Linked DNA regions of Homo sapiens: region 2 is linked to region 1. The links come from fine-mapping of genetic effects on plasma protein levels. A gene starts in region 1. The other region holds a variant in brackets. All regions are shown on one strand. Distances are from middle to middle.

Region 1 (8,798 bases):
GCCCCGCCTCTCAGGCTGTACAGGCTCCTCCTCCCCAGCGATTACGTCTCCGCCCCCACCTGCCCCGCCCCTCGGGCCACGCCTGTTCCGGTACTGAGGTCCCGCCCACTCTTCGCCCCGCCTTCGCATTCCTCTGGTCCCACCTCGGAGCCGCGGAGACCCCGCCTCCTTCCTTACTGTAGATGGTCACGTTCTCCCGGGTCTCCCGGTTTTCGCCCCCCAGGGTGACGTTGCAGACCAGCTGCCTGGCACCCTCCTGCTCTGCGCTAGCTGTGGCTGTGGCAGTGGCCACGAATGCGTCCCCTTCGAGGGTGACATCAGGACTCAGATTCTGGTCCCCCAGTGCGAGGTAGACCCTGGCCTCTGAGGCTGGAAACAGTCCGTCCAGAGTGCAGCTCACGGGCCTTTCCGAGCCAACTTCCAAGAGCCGGGGAGCAGCGAGGCGCGGGGCATCCGGAGACAGGGCTAGGGGTCGAAGAACCAAGTTTGAACTAACTCCGAGCGCTCAATATGTCCTAAGCACTTGACATGCACTATCTTATCGTATTATCATCCTCAAGGCACGGAGGGGGAAACAGCTCAGCCGGCGAGGGTTGAAGTCGGGGTCAGCATTCAGATGTATCTACCTCTAAACCTCCTAAACACCGACCGACCCCACTGGGTCCCCATCTCCTCCCCACACCCACTCACAGAAGGTTCGGAGCTCTCTGGGGGCCGAGCTGTTTTCAAACAGTCCCAGTCCGTGCGGCCGCAGGTCCAGCTCGGCGCGACACGAGAAATTGGCTCCATGGTCCTCCCTCCGAGCCAGTACCGTGGCTGTGAGCACCGCGCCCCGCGCTCGGGGTGGTTCACCGGCGAAGCTGCGGCGGATCAGCTCCTGGGCGCCCCGCAGCAGGGTCAGCGTGAGGCTCGCACGGGGCCCGGCGCCGGGGACCCTACAGCTCAGGGTGAAGTTCTCGCCCACCGGCTGCCAGGGAGGCAGCGGCATCAGCTCTACGCGATCTGGTCGCTCTGCAAGGGGGAAGAGTCCGCAGCTCTTTGAACACCGGGACTTGGAACAGAAGGTGGGGCCTGAAGGGGAGGACCCTGGGACCCAGGGGGCGGGGCCTGGGAGGGAGGGAGAGTAGTGGAGTACGCGCGTGGCCACCCAGAACTCACGGAAAGTGCGAATGAGCCCACGCGCCTGTAGTGTGCGCCGCGCGCAGCGGAAGAAGCAGACGGGCTGAGTCTCCGGCTCGCGAATGTCCACCAGCTGCCGCGCCAACCAACGCAAACCCCTCTGGGTCCCGTTTCGGCGCAGCGAGGTCTCCAGGCCACCGCGCTCCGGCCGAGGGCAGTTGGTGCTGCAATTCAGCCACAGCGAGCCCCCGCGCTCCACGAACGCCACGCGAGGCTGCAGGTCCGCCCAGAAGGGCTCCTGCGAGACCGCTGCCCAGGGAAACGCGGGCTGAGCCTGGGGAGCCAACTCCCTGACATCTTAGCGCCCCTATGTCGAGTCAAGGGTTCTCAGAGGGCGGGGAGGAGGAGGAGAGGCTGCAGCCAGGGAAAGAACCCAGGCGTCCCGCGTCCTGCCCAGGCCTCCGGTTTAAAGGCGCACTCCCAGAGTCTAAACCTCGAGGGTGTCTCTGGGACGTGGTAGCAGAGAGCCATGGTCTCCAAAGCGCCGATGGAGCGGCGGGAAAGCATGGGGGGAGGGCGTAGAGGAGAGGAAAGGTGGGTTCTTGGATGAACACAGCAAGGCTGAGAGAAGGGGACCCGGGATGGGGGATGGGGGATGAACCAGTTCTCAGGGTCCTGGCAGAATGCCGGGATACGAGGAGAGTGCGTTTGCGGCAAGGGCAAAGGAGAGACGAGGCTGGGTCAAGGATCAGGAAGGACCCTACACCCGGTGAAGAACACGGAGCCGGGACGCAAGGCTGGGCTCATGGAAGGAACCGCGGGAACAGCTGAGGGACCCGGTTGCCAGGGCTCTGGGTGGAGCGGGAACAGCGCCTCTGAGTCAGGGTAGTTGGAGAGATGGAGTCTTCGCGGACCGCGAGTGGGGAAGATGCCAGTCCGTGGACCATGGTGCACAGCACAGCGTAAGGAGGTACCCGGGGAGCGGACAGGAGAGACACTGGGTCTCCAGGGCGAAGGGTTGGGTGCGGAAGAACACCTAGGATCTCGAAGCGGGTAGGGGCTATCGAGGAGTCAGGAAGCTGGGGCTCGGGTGTGTGTTGGGGAGGAGGGGGAAGGGGAGAAGACTCAGGCTCGAGGTGGGGGCAGAGGCGTGGGAGCGAGGCGAGGGCAGAGCTGGGAGGGACAGGAGGCCGTTTCTCAGGTCCAGGGACTCCGCCCCCGCCCTGTCCACCCCGAACCAGAGCGGGGCTCTTACCTGAGAGGCCGAAGAGCCCCAGGCCCAGAGCAGCCCAGAGGCCGAGTAGCGCCCGGCGCAGCCCTGGCGAAGGCCCTGGCATCGCCGCGGCGGGGAAAGCACAGGAGGCGAGGAGAGCGCGAGCCGAGGAGCTGGGCTAGAGGACGGCTCCGCGCGGCGCGGCGGGTGGGGTGTGGGGGAGGCAGAGTTGCGCTTGGGGATTGGTTTAACGTTGGTAACTTGGTTTCCAAGGAGGGGGCGGCGGCAGAGGCGGCGGGGGGGCGGGAGGCGAGCGTGCGCTAAGCTCCTGGCCTTGGTGAAGGCGAGCTGGCAGGAGTGAGCGACCCCTGGGGTCTACGTGGAGGCCGGCATGATGGCCCAGGGCCTTCTGGGGGCGACCACGCTCTCTCGCGTCATCCCCGGCCGCGACTCTGGGATCGGGGGATGCTGGGTTGCCCTTCCCAAACCCCTACCCCAGCCCTGGCTGAGATGCCATGATAATAAGCTGGACTCCGAGCCCCGCCCCCACATTTAGCTCCTCCCACCAGCGCCCCTTAGGGCGGGGATACATTTGGGGACTAAGAGAGATTTGGGAGGCACTGGATGGGGAAAGGACAGTTCTAGGGGAGGGTGTGGGGATGCCTCTCTCACTGATCCTTCTCCTTTTGACCCCGCGGAGCCATACCTCTAAGCACCCCTCCGGGTCAGCTCCCGCACGCGACGGAGGGGGCGGGACGAAAGTGCCAGCGAGCCGAGGACACGTGTGCGTGCGCGCAGCGTTCGCGGGCGTCTAAATTAGAATCCGCTCGGCTCCGGGTCTGTATTTACCCAGGGTGCAGCGGGCACGTGTCTACTCAGCGTGTGTGAGCTCGAGCCACCCTGGAGCGCCCCTGAGTCCGCCTTCTGCTCGGTGGGTGGGGGCCCTGACATCCACGCGAGAACAAGGGACCGAGGGTGATGCTTTTGACTCCGCTTCCGGGCCCCAAGCTTTGACACCCCCCACCCCCAACTCCATGCGCTCATCTGGCTGGGTGACTACCAGAACATCGTCAGAATTCGAGTTTGTGATATTCCCTGTGGACCATCTGATCACCCCTTCCCGGCTGCCACCACATGGATACCTCTTCTGCGTATCCACGTCCCTCAATATGTCCGTGGGACCCTCCCCTCCCCACCATTCGTGGTCTCACTCCAGCGTGGTAAGTTATTTTGGAGATGAGTTCTCGCTCCACAGTTGTTTGGCCTCCAGGAAAGCACAGGGTCTGAAGGTGGGGCTGGGATAGGAAACTTAACATCCAATCAGAGCTGCCGCGTGGTGGCGGCGGCGCCAATCAGGAAAGCCATACCATGAACCCCACCCCGCCCCTGCCCGTGGCTCTCCCCGGCCCGCGCTGATCCCACTCGATAAGGCCAGCAGAAGGAGAGGTTTCTGTGACACCCGCTGGGGATACACAGAGTCTGGGGCTTCGGGACCCCAGGTGGGCCCTGAGTGAGGAAACCTCAGGTGCCCTCAGGGAGACAAGGAACTTGGAGAAAGTGATCGCAAAAACAACAACAACAACAAAAACAAACCAGTTCCTCCGAAGAAGGGCAGTAATGCGGACCCTTAGGTCACAGGACAGAGGCTGGTTAAGGAAGCCTTTATTGATTCCAGAGGGTTCCCCCGCCAATATTTATTTTTATTTTTATTTTATTTTTGGAGACAGGGTCGTGCTCTGTCCCCCAGGCTGGAGTGCAGTGGCACGATCAAGGCTCACTGCAACCTCGACTTTCAGGGCTCAAAGGATCCTCCCAACTCAGCCTCCCGGGTAGCTGGGACCACAGGTGCGGGCCACCACACCAGGCTAATTTGTGTATTTTTTGCATAGACGGGGTCTCACTATGTTGTCCAGGCTGGTCTCGAACTCCTGGGCTCAAGCGATTCTCCTGCCTCGGCCTCCCAAAGTGCTGGGATTACAGGCGTCAGCCACCATGTATGGCCATTTCCCCAGATTGTTTCATATTCCTCTTTTTCTCGCTCAGCCGGCATAGAACATCCCCCTTTACGCCTGGGACTTCATAGCTAGGCACTTGCATAGGTACGCAGCGCCCACAGTGAGGAGGATCCCTACAAGGGCAGCGATGGAACCGGAGGCCAAAGCTGTGGGCGCGGGGCTCCAAGCTGGGAGCAGAAGGCGAGAATTAGGAACGGAACACAGGGAGGTCTGTCGACCCGCGTGGAGCTCACGCTTGGTCTGTGCGCCCTCTCGGGGTCATAACTCTCTCTGCCCCCTTCCTCCTAGTCCCCAGGGTTACAGGGGTGCCTCACCGAGCATCAGTGTAATGGGTGCCGAGCTGTTGCGGACCACCAGGCCGTCGAGATTGAGGCGCGCGTGGCAGATCACGGGCTGCCAGAAGTCGCGGGGTCCAGCAGCAAACTCGTAGGTCAAGGTCACGTTGGCCAGATCCAGGCCGGTGAAGCGCTCCAGGCTTTCGGAATAGATGACCCGGCTTCCATGCCTCAGGGTCACCACCAAGTAGCCCACCGGGAACACCTGCGTCACGTGGCAGCGCAAAGTGTATTTCCTGCCCTTTAAGACCGGAGGCTCCAAAATCACGCTGTGGGGCGGTTCTAAGGCAAGGGGGAGCCTCTGAGTGAGGTCCGCGGGCGCTCCCTATAGAGCGACTGTCAACTACCCTTCCCCCACCTCTTCCAGCCCCCTCCCCTCACCCCAGCCGGGACCGAGCCCCTGTCCCTCACTGTAGGCGGTGATCCTGGAGGTGGCCCAGCGTGTTTTTCCTGCGCAGGTCACGAGGCAGTGCGCGAGGGAGCTCCAGGCCCTCACGTCGAGCAGCTGGTAAGACACCCAACCCGGCCCTCTGAGCGTCTTGCCTTGCCGCAGCGGGGTGCGGAGGCTGGAATTCTGCGGCTGGGGACAGCTGTTGCTGCAATTGAGCTGCACTGACTTCCCCGGCTGCACAGCCACGAACTCCGGGCTCATGCGCACCCAGAAGGGCACTGAGGTCCCGGAGGGCGCGAGAGGGCTACCCTTGGGGCTTTGCGCCCGCTTAGTCCGGCGTCCCAGCGCGCTCCCAACTCCCGGGTAGGCGGCCGCCAAAAAAAACAGCAGCGACAGAGGGAACAGAGACCCCATGGCAAAAAGCCCGGACTAAGGGGCCCCGCGCCAGAGAGCCAGGGCCGGCTCTAGAGATAAGGAGGCCCGCAGCCCCGCCTCCTCGACTCCACCCTGGAGAGGAAGGGGAGGCCCCAACAGAGGGCCCGGGAGTACTGCAAAAAGGGATTCCGCTCCCCAGGTCAAGAATAAGATTCCAGGCCTCATTAGAAACCAAATGTTTTTTTCTGGAGAGGAGTCTTTAGTTTTCACTAGAGACCCAGAAGGTCATAGAAAGTCCGATTTGGACCAGAACCTCAGGGTATGGCCATCAACCCACAATGTTTTCTTGGGGGAGGAAGTGGGAGGATCAGGCTGTGGCTGCTTAGAAAGGACTCCAGCTGGATGTGACACCTCCCCTCAACTCACACAAGGCTGAGGCAGTTGAGAAAGCTTTATTAACTAACACAAAGGAAGTCTGGGCAATGTTGCGAGACCCCGTCTCTGGAAAAAAAAAAAAAATCAAATTTGCCAGGTGTGGTGTTGTGAGCCTATGGTCCCAGCTACTCAGGAGGCTGAGGTGGGAGGATCACTTGAGCCCAAAAGGTCAAGACTGCAGTGAACCATGATTGCACCACTGCACTCCAGCCTGGGTGACAGAGCGAGAGCTTGTCTACACATACACACACACACACACGCGGATGAGGCTTCCAAAGCTGGGAGGGAGTCCTCCAATACCTTGGCCCCCTTCCCCACTGCTTGCAGGACCCTGATCACTGCAGGAAACTGGAGCTGCATAGTGCAAGCTCCCAGTGAAATGCAAACAGGACAAGAGGACAAGGCATAGCTTGGGCATATTCCCTGGGCACTCATGTCCAGACATGACCGCTGAGTGTCATTGTGAACACTGGCAGAAATGTATGTGGGTGGGGAGGTGGCTAACAAAGGTGTCAGTTTTGGGGGGAAGGGAGGAATAAGGCCTCACTGGGTAATCTCTGAACCTGTAACCATTACCAGTCCATATAGTGCTTTTGTGCCGATAGAAAAATCACTCCTTCTGGGGAAAGGCAGGTTGGCCAATGAGAAGTCCCAGCCCCATTTGATCTTTTTGCCAGGCACTCTCCTGCAGTGTACAACCTGTACAACTGTACCTGGTGACCTTGAATGTGATTAGGACTGGGAGCTCCGTGAGGCCAGAGACCTATGTTCATTTAGCCTACATAAAAGACACTCAATAAATAGCTGGTAAAATAACAAATGAATAAATACATATCATCAAGGGTTGGGGTCAGTAGACAGCAGTGCCCAAGCTGGCATCCGTCAGGAAGTGTGGGCCTTTGTGTTTTGATGCTACACATGTCTATGGAGGGCCACTTCTTCTGTAAGTCTGTGGGGCCTCAGCATACCCAATAGGCAGCAAGTTTCAGTATTTCCCAGTTGTATGTCCTCATGGTGGGGCTATGTCTCCCCCACCACTTCCCCTCTCATCAGGCTAGACTTTAACATCCATCAATCATGTCTTGAGTCTTGCTCCTTCCTCTTGGCTTAGTCATGTGACTACAGATCAGATGCGTGGCCTAGTGTTTTAGGTGTGCAGGTACCATGGCCCCAAATGCTGTTGTATCTGACTGAGGACAATGCCCTGTCCTCCGGCGTCCCAGGGCCGGTAGGTGTAGCTGCATGGCATATGTCTTCCACTCTGTTCAGTGTGGCACCACTGCCACCAATATGGGAAGGCCGAGGAAGAGGCCCTGTCCCGGGATAGGTTCAGGGAGGCGTGGCTTGTGTGTTCGGTTTCATGGGGGTCCCTTTTTGGGCCTGTTGTAGTCTGTATTTCTTGATCTTCCGCTGGCGGTTATAGAGGTACGTGCTGAGGCCTGCAGTGCCCATTATGACTGCGGCTGCTACCACAGTGATGATGACAATCTCATACCGGGGGGCTGTGGGGAGGATACAACAGGCGGTGAGGATTGCATTAGGTCCATGGCCCCTGCCCCCACCCAGCTCTGCCCGCCGGCTCACTCACAGAGCACATTCACGGTCACCTTGCGGGTGACCTCCCCTTGAGTGCTCCTGGCCCGACAGAGGTAGGTGCCCTCAAGATCTCGAGTGACAGTCACTGATTCCCCGATGGGCAGTGGGAAAGTGCCATCCTTTAGACACTTGAGCTCGGGCAATGGGTTCCCCCAAGCCTGGCACATTGGAGTCTGCTGGGAATTTTCTGGCCACGTCCAGTTTCCCGGACAATCCCTCTCGTCCAGTCGGGGGCCATCTGGAAAAACACGATGAGATGACATGGAGGTGGGTGGGGGCAGGACTTGGAGGCAAGACCTTATGGGACCTTCAGGGAGATTGGGCCTTGGGGGATAGGGGCCATTGACCAGCAGCCCCACTCACACAGGACACGAAGCTCCCGGGTCTGGTTCTTGTGTATAAGCTGGCCGGCCACCTCCAGGGTTGCAGAGCAGGAGAAGCTGCGCCCGTTGTCCTCTGGGGTGGCCTTCAGCAGGAGCTGGGCCCTCGGGCCCAGTGGCTGGGCTGGAACCCCATTCAGCGTCACCTTGGCTCTAGGGTGGGCCTCACACTTCACTGTCACCTCGGTCCCTTCTGAGACCTCTGGCTTCGTCAGAATCACGTTGGGCGCCGGAAAGCCTGGAATAGGCACACAGTGAGCCCCGCCCCGGGTTCAGGTCACACCCCCAAGAAGCCCCACTCCGCCCCTGCCCCTTCTTACTGTAGATGGTCACTGTCTGCAGTGTCTCCTGGCTCTGGTTCCCCAGTATTACTGCACACGTCAGCCGCTGGGTGCCCTCGTCCTCTGCGGTCACACTGACTGAGGCCTTGGCCGAGAAGGAGTCGTTGCCATAGGTGACTGTGGGGTTCAACCTCTGGTCCCCCAGTGCCAGGTGGACCTGGGCCTCCGAGACTGGGAACAGCCCGTCCAGGGAACAGACCACGGTCCCCTGCGTGTCCACCTCTAGGACCCGGGGGCTGACAAGTTGTGGGGGAGTCGCTGGCAGGACTAGGGAGAGAAGAAAGGTGTGAGCAGACAGGGATGGACGTCCCGAAGCCCTTCTCTGGGGCATTTCATTCCCCCTCCTGCGAGATCCTCTTCCAGGGCCACTCAGCAGCCTAGGTCACATACGCCTAGAACACATGCACCCCTTAGCCGGGGCCACACCCATCTCAAAAGATCCTGTGGCCACAGGCACCGCATTGCAGGATACCCCACCCCCACCTTCTCCCTGCTGGCTTCTTCAATCCTCACCAAAGGTCTGGAGCTGGTAGGGGGCCGAGGTGTTCTCAAACAGCTCCAGCCCTTGGGGCCGCAGGTCCAGTTCAGTGCGGCACGA
Region 2 (9,513 bases), 11 kb before region 1:
CTGGCCAACATGATGAAACCCCGTCTCTACTAAATATGCAAAAATTAGCCAGGCGTGGTAGCATGTGCCTGTAATCCGAGCTACTTGGGAGGCTCAGGCAGGAGAATCGCTTGAACCTGGGAGGTTGAGGTTGCAATGAGCCAAGATCGTGCCACTGCACTCCAGCCTGGGTGACAGAGCGAGACTCTATCTCAAAAAAGACACATGCAAGACAGCCGTGCGTGCTGACAGACACATCAGCAGAGACACACGTCGACAGGGATATGCTGACACGTAGCTGAGTCACACACAGATACAGCCCACACAGGACACATGCACCAGACACACGTAAAACACACAAGTAGATGGCACACACTGGCAGCATATACCAGTGGATCCTTCATCTGTCACCCAACCCCTGCCTGCAGTGTGTCACTCTCCTTAGCCCCTGCTGTGTCCCCTACCCCCTTTTAAGATCTCCCTAATCCAGCCAAAATGTGTCTCCCGGGCCTGAAGTCAAAAGCCCCAAGTCAGAGGCATCTTTCAGCAGGCGGGACACACAGGCCACCAGCACTCACAGGGAGGGAGGGAGGATGGAGAGTCAAGACTGGTGGCGGGCTGGGCATGGTGGCTCACACCTGTAATCCCAACACTTCAGAAGGCAGAGGTGGGAGGATCGCTTGAGCCCAGGAGTTTGAGACCAGCCTGGGTAACACAGTGAGACCCCGTCTCTACCAAAAAATCAAAAAATGAGCCAGGGGTGGTGGTGCATGCCTGTAGTGCCAGCTACTCAGGACACTGAGGTGGGAGGATCACTTGAGCCCTGGAGGTCAAGACTGCAGTGAACCGTGATCGTACCACTGTACTCCAGCCTGGGTAATAGAGGGAGACTTGGGGAAAAAAAAAAAAGTAGGGTGGGCATGGTCCTTGCTGTGGGCGTGAGTGAGCCACAAAGCCACACACCCTTATGAGATCCTCTTTGTCTCTCCTGGGCAGCCCTGAATGGGAGAACTGGAGTCCAGATTCCTCTGCCCTCAGATCCCTGAATTATTTGATCTTACCCTTCCTTGGCCTGAAACACCCTCCCTCCACATCTCCCCATGGCTGACACCTTCTAATCGCTTGAGGAGGCCTGGCCCCAACATCAGCTCTTCAGAGAAGCCTTCCTTGACCACTCAGACTAAAATAGACACCTCCCCCGACTCAGGCCGGGTGTGGTGGCTCACACCTGTAATCCCAGCACTCAGGGAGGCTGAGGTGTGAGGATCACTTAAACTCAGGAGTTTGAGGCTGGGCTTGGTGGCTCACACCTGTAATTCCAGCACTTTGGGAGGCCAAGGCAGGAGGATCACCTGAGGTCAGGAGTTAGAGACTGGTTAACATGGTGAAACCCCACCTCTGCTAAAACTACAAAAAATAGCCGGGCGTAGTGGCAGGCGCCTGTAGTACCAGCTACTTGGGAGGCTGAGGGAGGACAATTGCTTGTTATCTACAGAATGAAAAAAACAAGACACATGCCCAGCCAGGCAGAGTGGCTCATTCCTATAATCCCAGCACTTTGGGAAACTGAGGCAGGTGGATCACCGGAGGTCAGGAGTTCGAGACCAGCCTGGCCAACATGGGGAAACCCTGTCTCTACTAAAGATACAAAAATTAGCCAGGCGTGGTGGCATGTGCCTGTAATCCCAGCTACTTGGGAGGTGGAGGTTACAGTGAGCCGAGATCGTGCCACTGCACTCCAGCCTTGGAGACAGAGACTCCATCTCAAAACAAAAACAAAAACAAAAAACTAATTAAAAAATAAAATAGGCCAGATGTGGCTCACAGGCTCACACCTGTAATCCAAGCACTTTGGGAGCCCAAGGCAGCAAGATCACTTGAACCCAGGAGTTCAAGACCAGCCTGGGCAACATGGTGAAACCCCGTTTCTACCAAAAATACAAAAATTAGCCGGATGTGGTGGCATGCACCTATATTCCCAGCTGCTTGGGAGGCTGAGGTGGGAGGATCACTTGAGTCTGGGAAGTTGAAGCTGCAGTGAGCCACGATCGTGCCACTGCACTGCTGCCTGAGCAACAGAGTGAGACCCTGTCTCCAAAAAAAAAATAAAATAGACATTCCCACTCTCACCCTGTGTCAGCCTCCGGTTCAGCTCCTTGCTGGTCTCCCTCTTAGAACCTATCAGAATTTCCATTGTCTGGAAGCCTTCCTTGACCACTCAGTCTAAAATAGAAAGGAAGGCTTATGGTTACATTATCCACATCCATCTCCCCTACTGCCCCAGGAGTTCTCAAGTCTGAGGTCGCCACATCTATGTCCTTGCCCACGACAGGCCTCTCCAGTGCCAAGTATAGAGAAGCTCTCTGCAAGGACACACCTTGAACACATATCTGCAAGCTCGTGGCTGTCTTTACCCACTTATTCAACATTTATTGAGCAACTGTGTGTGCTAGGACCCAATGAGGACCCTCAGTGGTGAACAGAACAAAGATCCCTGCTCTACTGGGGCTGATGTTCTAGGAGACAGTAAAAAAAAAAAAAAAAAAAAAACTCAGAGGCAGGACGCGGTGCCTCATGCCTGTAATCCCAGCATTTTGGAAGGCTAAGGCAGGCGGACTGCCTGAACTCAGGAGTTTGAGACCAGCCTGGGCAACACGGTGAAACCCTGTCTCTACTAAAAAACAAAAAATCAGCCAGGTGTGGCGGCATGTGTCTGTAGTCCCAGCTACTCGGGAGGCTGAGGCAGGAGAATTGCTTGAACCTGGGAGGCAGTGGTTGCAAGGTTGCAGTGAGCTGAGAGCACACCACTGCATTCCATCCTGGGTGACAGAGAGAGACTCCCTCTCAAAAAAAAAAAAAAAAAAAACCTCAGGTGTATGTCTAAGAGGATGTTAAGTTGTGAGCTGGGCTACAGAGAAAAAGTGTGCAAGGAAATAAAAGAGTTAAGGAGGTCGGGCGTGGTGGCTCATGCCTGTAATCCCAGCACTTTGGGAGGCTGAGGTGGGCGAATCCCTTGAGGTCAGGAGTTCGAGACCAGCGTGGACAAAATGGTGAAACCCCCTCTCTATTAAAAATACAAAAATTAGGCAGGTGTGGTGGCATGTGCCTGTAATCTCACCTACTCAGGGGGCTAAGGTGGGAGAATCGCTTTAACCCAGGAGGCAGAGGCTGCAGTGAGATCTTGCCTTTGCACTCCAGCCTGGGTGACAAAGTGAGACTCTGTCTCAAAAAAAAAAAGAAAAAAAAAAAAAAATGTCGGGCACCATGGCTCATGCCTGCCTGTAATCCCAGCACTTTGGGAAGCTGAGGTGGGTGGATCAGGAGTTCGAGACCAGCCTGGCAAACATGGTGAAACCCCATCTCTGCTAAAGATACAAAAATTAGCCAGGCATAGTGGTGGGTGCCTGTAATCCTATTGGGAGGCTGAGGCAGGAGAGAATCACTTGAACCTGGGAGGCGGAGGCTGCAGTAAGCCAAGATTGCGCCACTGCACTCCAGCCTGGGCCACACAGTGAGACTCCGTCTCAAACAAACAAACAAACAAACAAACAAACAAAAAAAAAAACAGAAAGAAAAAGAAAAAGTAATTGCAGTTTTTGCCATTACTTTTTTTTTTTTTTTTTCCTCTGAGACAGTCTCACTCTGTGGCCCAGGCTGGAGTGCAGTGGCGTGATTTCAGCTCACTGCAGCCTCCGCTTCAGGGTTCAAGCAGTTCTCCTGCCTCAGCCTCCCAAGTAGCTGAGACTACAGGGGTGTGCCACCATGTCCGGCTAATTTTTTTTGTATTGTTAGTAGAGACAGGGTTTCACCATGTTAGCCAGGCTGGTCTTGAACTCCTGACCTCGTGATCTGCCCACCTCGGCCTCCCAAAGTGCTGGGATTACAGGCGTGAGCCACCATGCCCTGCCTGCCATTACTTTCAATGGCAAAAACAGCAATTACTTTTGCACCAACCTACTAAAATAAATATCTCATCTGAAGGCTCTGAAAGAGACCTTGAGGTCAGTAGGAGCGGAGAGAGATCATTAAGTAGGGAGGGCACAGGCAGAAAAGGTGAGGTGCTGTTAGTGGCAGGGACTGCACCTGGCTGGTGCCTTTTTGGGTGTTATACCTGGCCCCTGGCTCCAGCACCGAGCACTGGCCTGCCCTCTTGTGCCATTTCCCCGTCTCATCTTTGCTCATTACATGTTTGCATGGGACTGGCTTCCTTCTCTAGGGCTCCGTGTTCCTGCTTTTGAGGGAGGAGGGGCAGAGGAGGAGGCTGTGGGGAGGAGGCCCAGCTGCTGTGCCTTATGCTGTTGGGGATGAGGGGGGAAGGTGCCGTGTAGTGGGGGTTGCAGC[G/A]GATACCCTGTGTGTGTCTGTTCTGAATCATGATGGGCTGAGTGGAAAGGCAGGGTGGGGGTAAACTGAAGCACTGTGGGTGGACACAGGACAAAGGAGGCATTGAGGGCGGGGCAGGGGTGCCCCCTTTAACAGGGAGGACATGCTAAGGGCTGACACCCATAGCATCAGCCAGTGCCTGCCCAGGAAGGTCTCACCGAAGTCTCAGGGCAGGGGCACAACGGAGAGGGCCTCCACCCACCCTGGCAAGGCGGCCTCAGCTCTGCCGGTAACCAGGCCTGGGGGAAGCACCTAGCCCCCACCTCCAAGAGTGACCCGGATCAGAGGGCAGTGCTGGGTGGAAGAGATAAGTAGGAGGAAGGAGTGAGGCCCCCACCCCTGCCCAAGGGTGTGAAGAGAGCAGAAAACAGGCACTGAGAGAGGACGAGCTCTAGGTCACACTGAGAAAAGACAGCCAGCCGGGCCAGGCACAGTGGCTCAGGCTTGTAATTCCAGCACGTTGGGAGACCGAGGCAGGTGAATCACGAGGTCAGTAGTTCCAGACTAGCCTGACCAACATGGTGAAACCCTGTCTCTACTAAAAATACAAAAATTAGCCGGGCGTAGTGGTGGCGCGCGCCTGTAATCCCAGCTACTCAGGAGGCTGAGGCAGGAAAATCGCTTGAACGTGGGAGGCAGAGCTTGCAGTGAGCTGAGATTACACCACTGCACTCCAGCCTGGGCGACAGAGAGACTCCGTCTCAAAAAAAAAAAAAAAAGAAAAAGAAAAAGACAGCTTAGATTGTGCCTGATGCATAGTAGGTGTTCAAAAAAAGTTTTTGGATTTTTTCGTTGTTTGTTTTTAGAGACAGGGTCTGGTTCTGTCACCTGGGCTGGAGCACAATGACGATATCATAGCTGGAAGTGGCTTTGACCTCCTAGGCTCAAAGGATCCTCCTGCCTCAGCCTCCCAAGTAGCTGGGACTACAGGCATGCACCACCATGTCTGGCTAATTTTTGAAAAATACACCAGGCATGGTGGCTTACAGCTGTAATCCCAGCACTTTGGGAGACCGAGGCAGGTGGATCACCTTAGGTCAGGAGTTCGAGACCAGCCTGGCCAACATGGTGAAACCCTGTCTCTACTAAAAATACAAAAATTAGCTGGGTGTGGTGGTGCATGCCTATAGTCCCAGCTATTTGGGAAGCCAAGGCAGGGGAATTGCTTGAACCCAGGAGGCAGAGGTTGCAGTGAGCCAAGATCACACCACAGCACTCCAGCCTGGGTGACAGAGCAAGACTCCATCTCAAAAAAAAAATTTTTTTTTTGAGGCCGGGCGCGGTGGCTCACGCCTGTAATCCCAGCACTTTGGGAGGCTGAGGCGGGTGGATCTCGAGGTCAGGAATAGAGACCATCCTGGCGAACACGGTGAAATCCCATCTCTACTAAAAATACAAAAAAAAATTAGCTGGGTGTGGTGGCAGGCGCCTGTAATCCCAGCTACTTGGGAGGCTGAGGCAGGAGAATGGCATGAACCCGGGAGACGGAGCTTGCAGTGAGCAGAGATAGTGCCACTGCTGTCCAGCCTGGGCGACAGAGCGAGACTCCATCTCAAAAAAAAAAATTTTTTTTTGAAACATGTTTTTTTGTAGGGTCTCGCTATGTTGCCCAGGCTGGTCTGAAACTCGTGGGCACAAGGGATCCTCCCACCTGGGCCTCCCAAAAGTCCTGGGATTACAGGCTTGAGCCACCATGCCCAGCCCCCTCAAAAAACACTTTTTTTTTTTTTTTTTTTTTTTTGAGACAGAGTCTAGTTCTGTTGCCCAGGCTGGAGTGCAATGGCAAGATCTCTACCTCCCGGGTTCTAGCAATTCTCCTGCCTCAGCCTCACGAGTAGCTGGGATTACAGGGCGTGTGCCACTACAGCCCAGCTAAATTTTTGTATTTTTTTGTTTTTGTTTTTGGTTTTTTTTTGAGACAGAGTCTCGCTCTATTGCCCAGGCTGGAGTGCAGTGGTGCGATCTTGGCTCACTGCAACCTCTGCCTCCGGGGTTAAAGCGATTCTCCTGCCTCAGCCTCTTGAGTAGCTGGGACTACAGGCATGTGCCACCACGCCCGGCTAATTTTTGTGTTTTTAGTAGTGACGGGGTTTCACCATGTTAGCCAGGACAGTCTTGATCTTCTAACCCCATGATCCGCCCGCCTCAGCCTCGCAAAGTGCTGGGATTACAGACGTGAGCCACTTCACCCGGCCTTAATTTTTTTGTATTTTTGGTAGAGAAGGTGTTTCACCACGTTGGCCAGGGTGGTCTCGAACTCCTGACCTCAAGTGACCCCCCCCCCCCGCCTTAGTTTCCCAAAGTTCTGGGATTCAAGCGAGAGTACTGTGCTCGGCCCTGGCTAATTTTTTTTTTTTTTTTTGAGACGGAGTCTTGCTGTCTGCCAGGGTGGAGTGCAGTGGCGCGATCTCGGCTCACTGCAAGCTCTGCTCCCCGGGTTCATGCCATTCTCCTGCCTCAGCCTCCTGAGTAGCTGGGACTACAGGCGCCCGCCACCACGCTCGGCTAATTTTTTTTTTTTTTTTTTTTTTGTATTTTTAGTAGAGACGGGGTTTCACCGTGTTAGCGAGGATGGTCTCGATCTCCCGACCTCGTGATCCGCCCGCCTCGGCCTCCCAAAGTGCTGGGATTACAGGCGTGAGCCACCACGCCTGGTTTTTTTTTTAAGACGGAATCTCGCTCTGTCGCCAGGCTGGAGTTCAGTGGCACGATCTCGGCTCACTGCAACCTCTGCCTCCGGGGTTAAAGCGATTCTCCTGCCTCAGCCTCCCGAATAGCTGGGACTACAGGCGCGCACCACCATGCCCAGCTAATTTTTGTATTTTTAGTAGAGACAGGGTTTCACCATATTGGCCAGGATGGTCTCGATCTCATGACCTCGACCTCGTGATCTGGCCGCCTCGGCCTTCCAAAGTCCTGGGATTACACGCATGAGCCACCGCGACCGGCCTTGGCTAATTTTTGAAAAATATTTTTTGTAGGGTCTCCCTATGTTGCCCAGGCTGGTCTGAAACTCTTGGGTGCAAGGGATCCTCCCACCTGGGCCTCCCACAAGTCCTGGGATTACAGGCCTAAGCCACCACCCCAGGCCCTCTCAAAAATCGCTTTTTGAATGAATAACTCGGGAGGTCACGACTGGAACCCTGGGCTTGTTCCACCTTGCAGAAACAGAAGCGGAGACAGGGAGTTCCTTTATAAAAACTTTATTGAGGGGATGGGTAGAAAATGGGGGTGACGCCCTTGGAGTTGAATACATAAATAAATGAATAAGTAAATAAATAAAGCAATAAATAAGCCCCCGTGTGAGTCTGGGGGGCGTCCCCCGGCCCGCGGGGAGAGGGGAGCGGGCTCACGCCGATGTCAGCTGTATGGCGAAGACCTCGCCCTCCGCCGGCGACTCGGCCGCGCCCCCCGCCGCCTCGGGTCCGCCCTCCGCGCCTGCCGCCCCGCCAGCGCCGCCGCCCGCTCCGTTCAGACACACGGCCTCGCCTGAGCTCTCGGCCTCCTGCACGTTGTACTCGCCCTTCTTGCAGGCGGTGGACTGCACGTAGAAGGCCAGGCCGGCCCCCGCGGCCAGCAGCGCCGCGCCCCCCGCCGCGCCGCCCACGGCGACCCATAGCCACGGACCTGCGGGGTGGAGACCCTCGCGGAGGGTGGCCAAGCTCCGGGGGGCTTCTCCCACCGCCCCCCGCACTCCCACAGGCACGAAGTCAGTCCTCATGCCCCGGGGAGCTCACTGTCTGGCCTTGGGAGAAGGGAGACAACCCATGCAATAAGGCCACTCCCAGTGCCAGGGCGACCCGAGTCCCGATTTATATCGCACTTCAGCCCATGGGGATATAAACCCGTGACCACACTTAGCCCCCTGGCGACAAGTCAACTCTCCCCATCCCCCAAAAAATGAGGACCGGCAGGACCAGGTCAGGTTCCCCCGACCCCAGAGAGAACCCAGCCCCAGGAGCTTCAGGAAGTGAGAGAAGGCGATCTTGACCCCTCTCTCCCTCCAACATCCAATGACTTTGGTCCCTCCCCAATCTTCCCCACAGTGGATTGTGAATTGGGTCAAGTTTCCACCACGCAGAATCCAGCCCAAGTTTTAAAGTCCTTTCCTGCAGCAGTGACAGCCCCGGAGGGTCCCTCCCCTTGAATTCAGTCCCCCTGCCACCTCCATCTCCCACCCCTCAAAGTGCGATCAACAGCCCCACCCGCTAAGGCACCTTTGACTTCTACTCTGTCCCACTTCCGTCTAGTCTACCGGGACCGAGAGGGAGGCAGGCGGGGCCGGCCGCCCCAAGACCCAGGTCACGCCCCCTCTCAGATACCTCGCCCCGCCTCTCCCCAGCTGCCACTTACCGGCCACGCGCACCGTGATGCGCCGCGCGTGGCGCCCGTGCGCGTTGGTGGCTGCGCACTCGTACTCGCCGCCGTGGCTTCCCATGGCGCCTGCCACGCTCAGTGTGCTGTTGTTGCTCGACAGGCCGATGTTGAGGGCCCCCGGGGGCGCGCGCCAGCTGATCTGGGCTGGAGGCCAGGCCTCCGCGCGGCAGGTCAACGTGAAGTTTCCTCCTGGGCGCACGCCTCCAGGGGGCGAGGCAGCAAGTTCGGCCACCACTGGCCGGTCTGAAGGGCACAGAAGGTGAAGTGGGGCTTAGCGCCGGCCCAGCCACTGATCAAATGCCCTGCTCCGGCCCACAACGATCGATGGGAGACCACCGCGCCTCTGATGGGCAGAAGAGGATCCTGCCTCCTATCAGAGCCTCCTTCCCCGACAATCAGGCTGCTGTTGCGGCTAAAATTCCTCGCCCTTCTTCACCGAATGGAAGGAGGTGAAGCCCAGGTCAGTGTTCTAATCCAGGATTTGAGGAGGGCCGTGCTCCTATTCCCTATAATTTTCTTTTTCTGTTTTTCTAAGAAAGAGTCTCACTCTGTTGCCCAGGCTGGAGTGCAGTGGCGGGATCTCGGCTCCCTGCAACCTCTGCCTCCCAGGCTCAAGCGATTCTCCTGCCTCAGCCTCCCAAGTAGCTGGGACCACAGGCGCCCACCACCACGACCGGCTAATTTTTGTAGAGACGGGTTTTCGCCATGTTGGCCGGGCTGGTCTCGAACTCCTGGCCTCAAGTGATTCATCCGCCTCAACCTTCCAAAGTGTTGGGA

Evidence for each region. PIP is the posterior inclusion probability: the model's chance that the variant is causal. Protein levels are from antibody-based Olink assays in UK Biobank. Linkage for the fine-mapping came from a reference panel and not from the study's own genotypes, which makes the PIPs less certain.
Region 2: its variant is fine-mapped to the plasma level of the ICAM5 protein (UK Biobank, PIP 0.97).

The regions. Positions count from the first base shown.
Region 1 is chr19:10,283,702-10,292,499 of GRCh38, reverse strand. ICAM5 (intercellular adhesion molecule 5) reads right to left here and starts at 2,548. Exons shown (of 11, transcript NM_003259.4): 1 at 2,375-2,548; 2 at 1,159-1,428; 3 at 691-1,011; 4 at 178-465. The coding sequence starts at 2,456. ICAM1 (intercellular adhesion molecule 1) reads right to left here. Exons shown (of 7, transcript NM_000201.3): 3 at 8,714-8,798; 4 at 8,180-8,467; 5 at 7,843-8,097; 6 at 7,472-7,717; 7 at 5,885-7,385. The coding sequence ends at 7,213. ICAM4 (intercellular adhesion molecule 4 (Landsteiner-Wiener blood group)) reads right to left here and starts at 5,545. Exons shown (of 3, transcript NM_001544.5): 1 at 5,094-5,545; 2 at 4,662-4,964; 3 at 3,980-4,514. The coding sequence starts at 5,487. The coding sequence ends at 4,396. ICAM4-AS1 (ICAM4 antisense RNA 1) reads left to right here and starts at 3,481. Exons shown (of 1, transcript NR_186335.1): 1 at 3,481-6,699. RefSeq lists silencers at 1-73, 1,084-1,153, 3,624-3,693 and enhancers at 1-693, 5,418-5,557, 4,904-5,873, 5,928-5,977.
Region 2 is chr19:10,294,812-10,304,324 of GRCh38, reverse strand. It overlaps ICAM5 (intercellular adhesion molecule 5), which reads right to left. Exons shown (of 11, transcript NM_003259.4): 10 at 8,713-8,979; 11 at 7,547-7,986. The coding sequence ends at 7,709. Among named protein-coding and RNA genes, the nearest start is that of ICAM5, 9.6 kb to the right of the region's middle. RefSeq lists an enhancer at 4,442-4,691, a silencer at 4,598-4,762 and a cis regulatory region at 4,051-4,883. The variant G/A (reference allele first, on the strand shown) is at 4,321.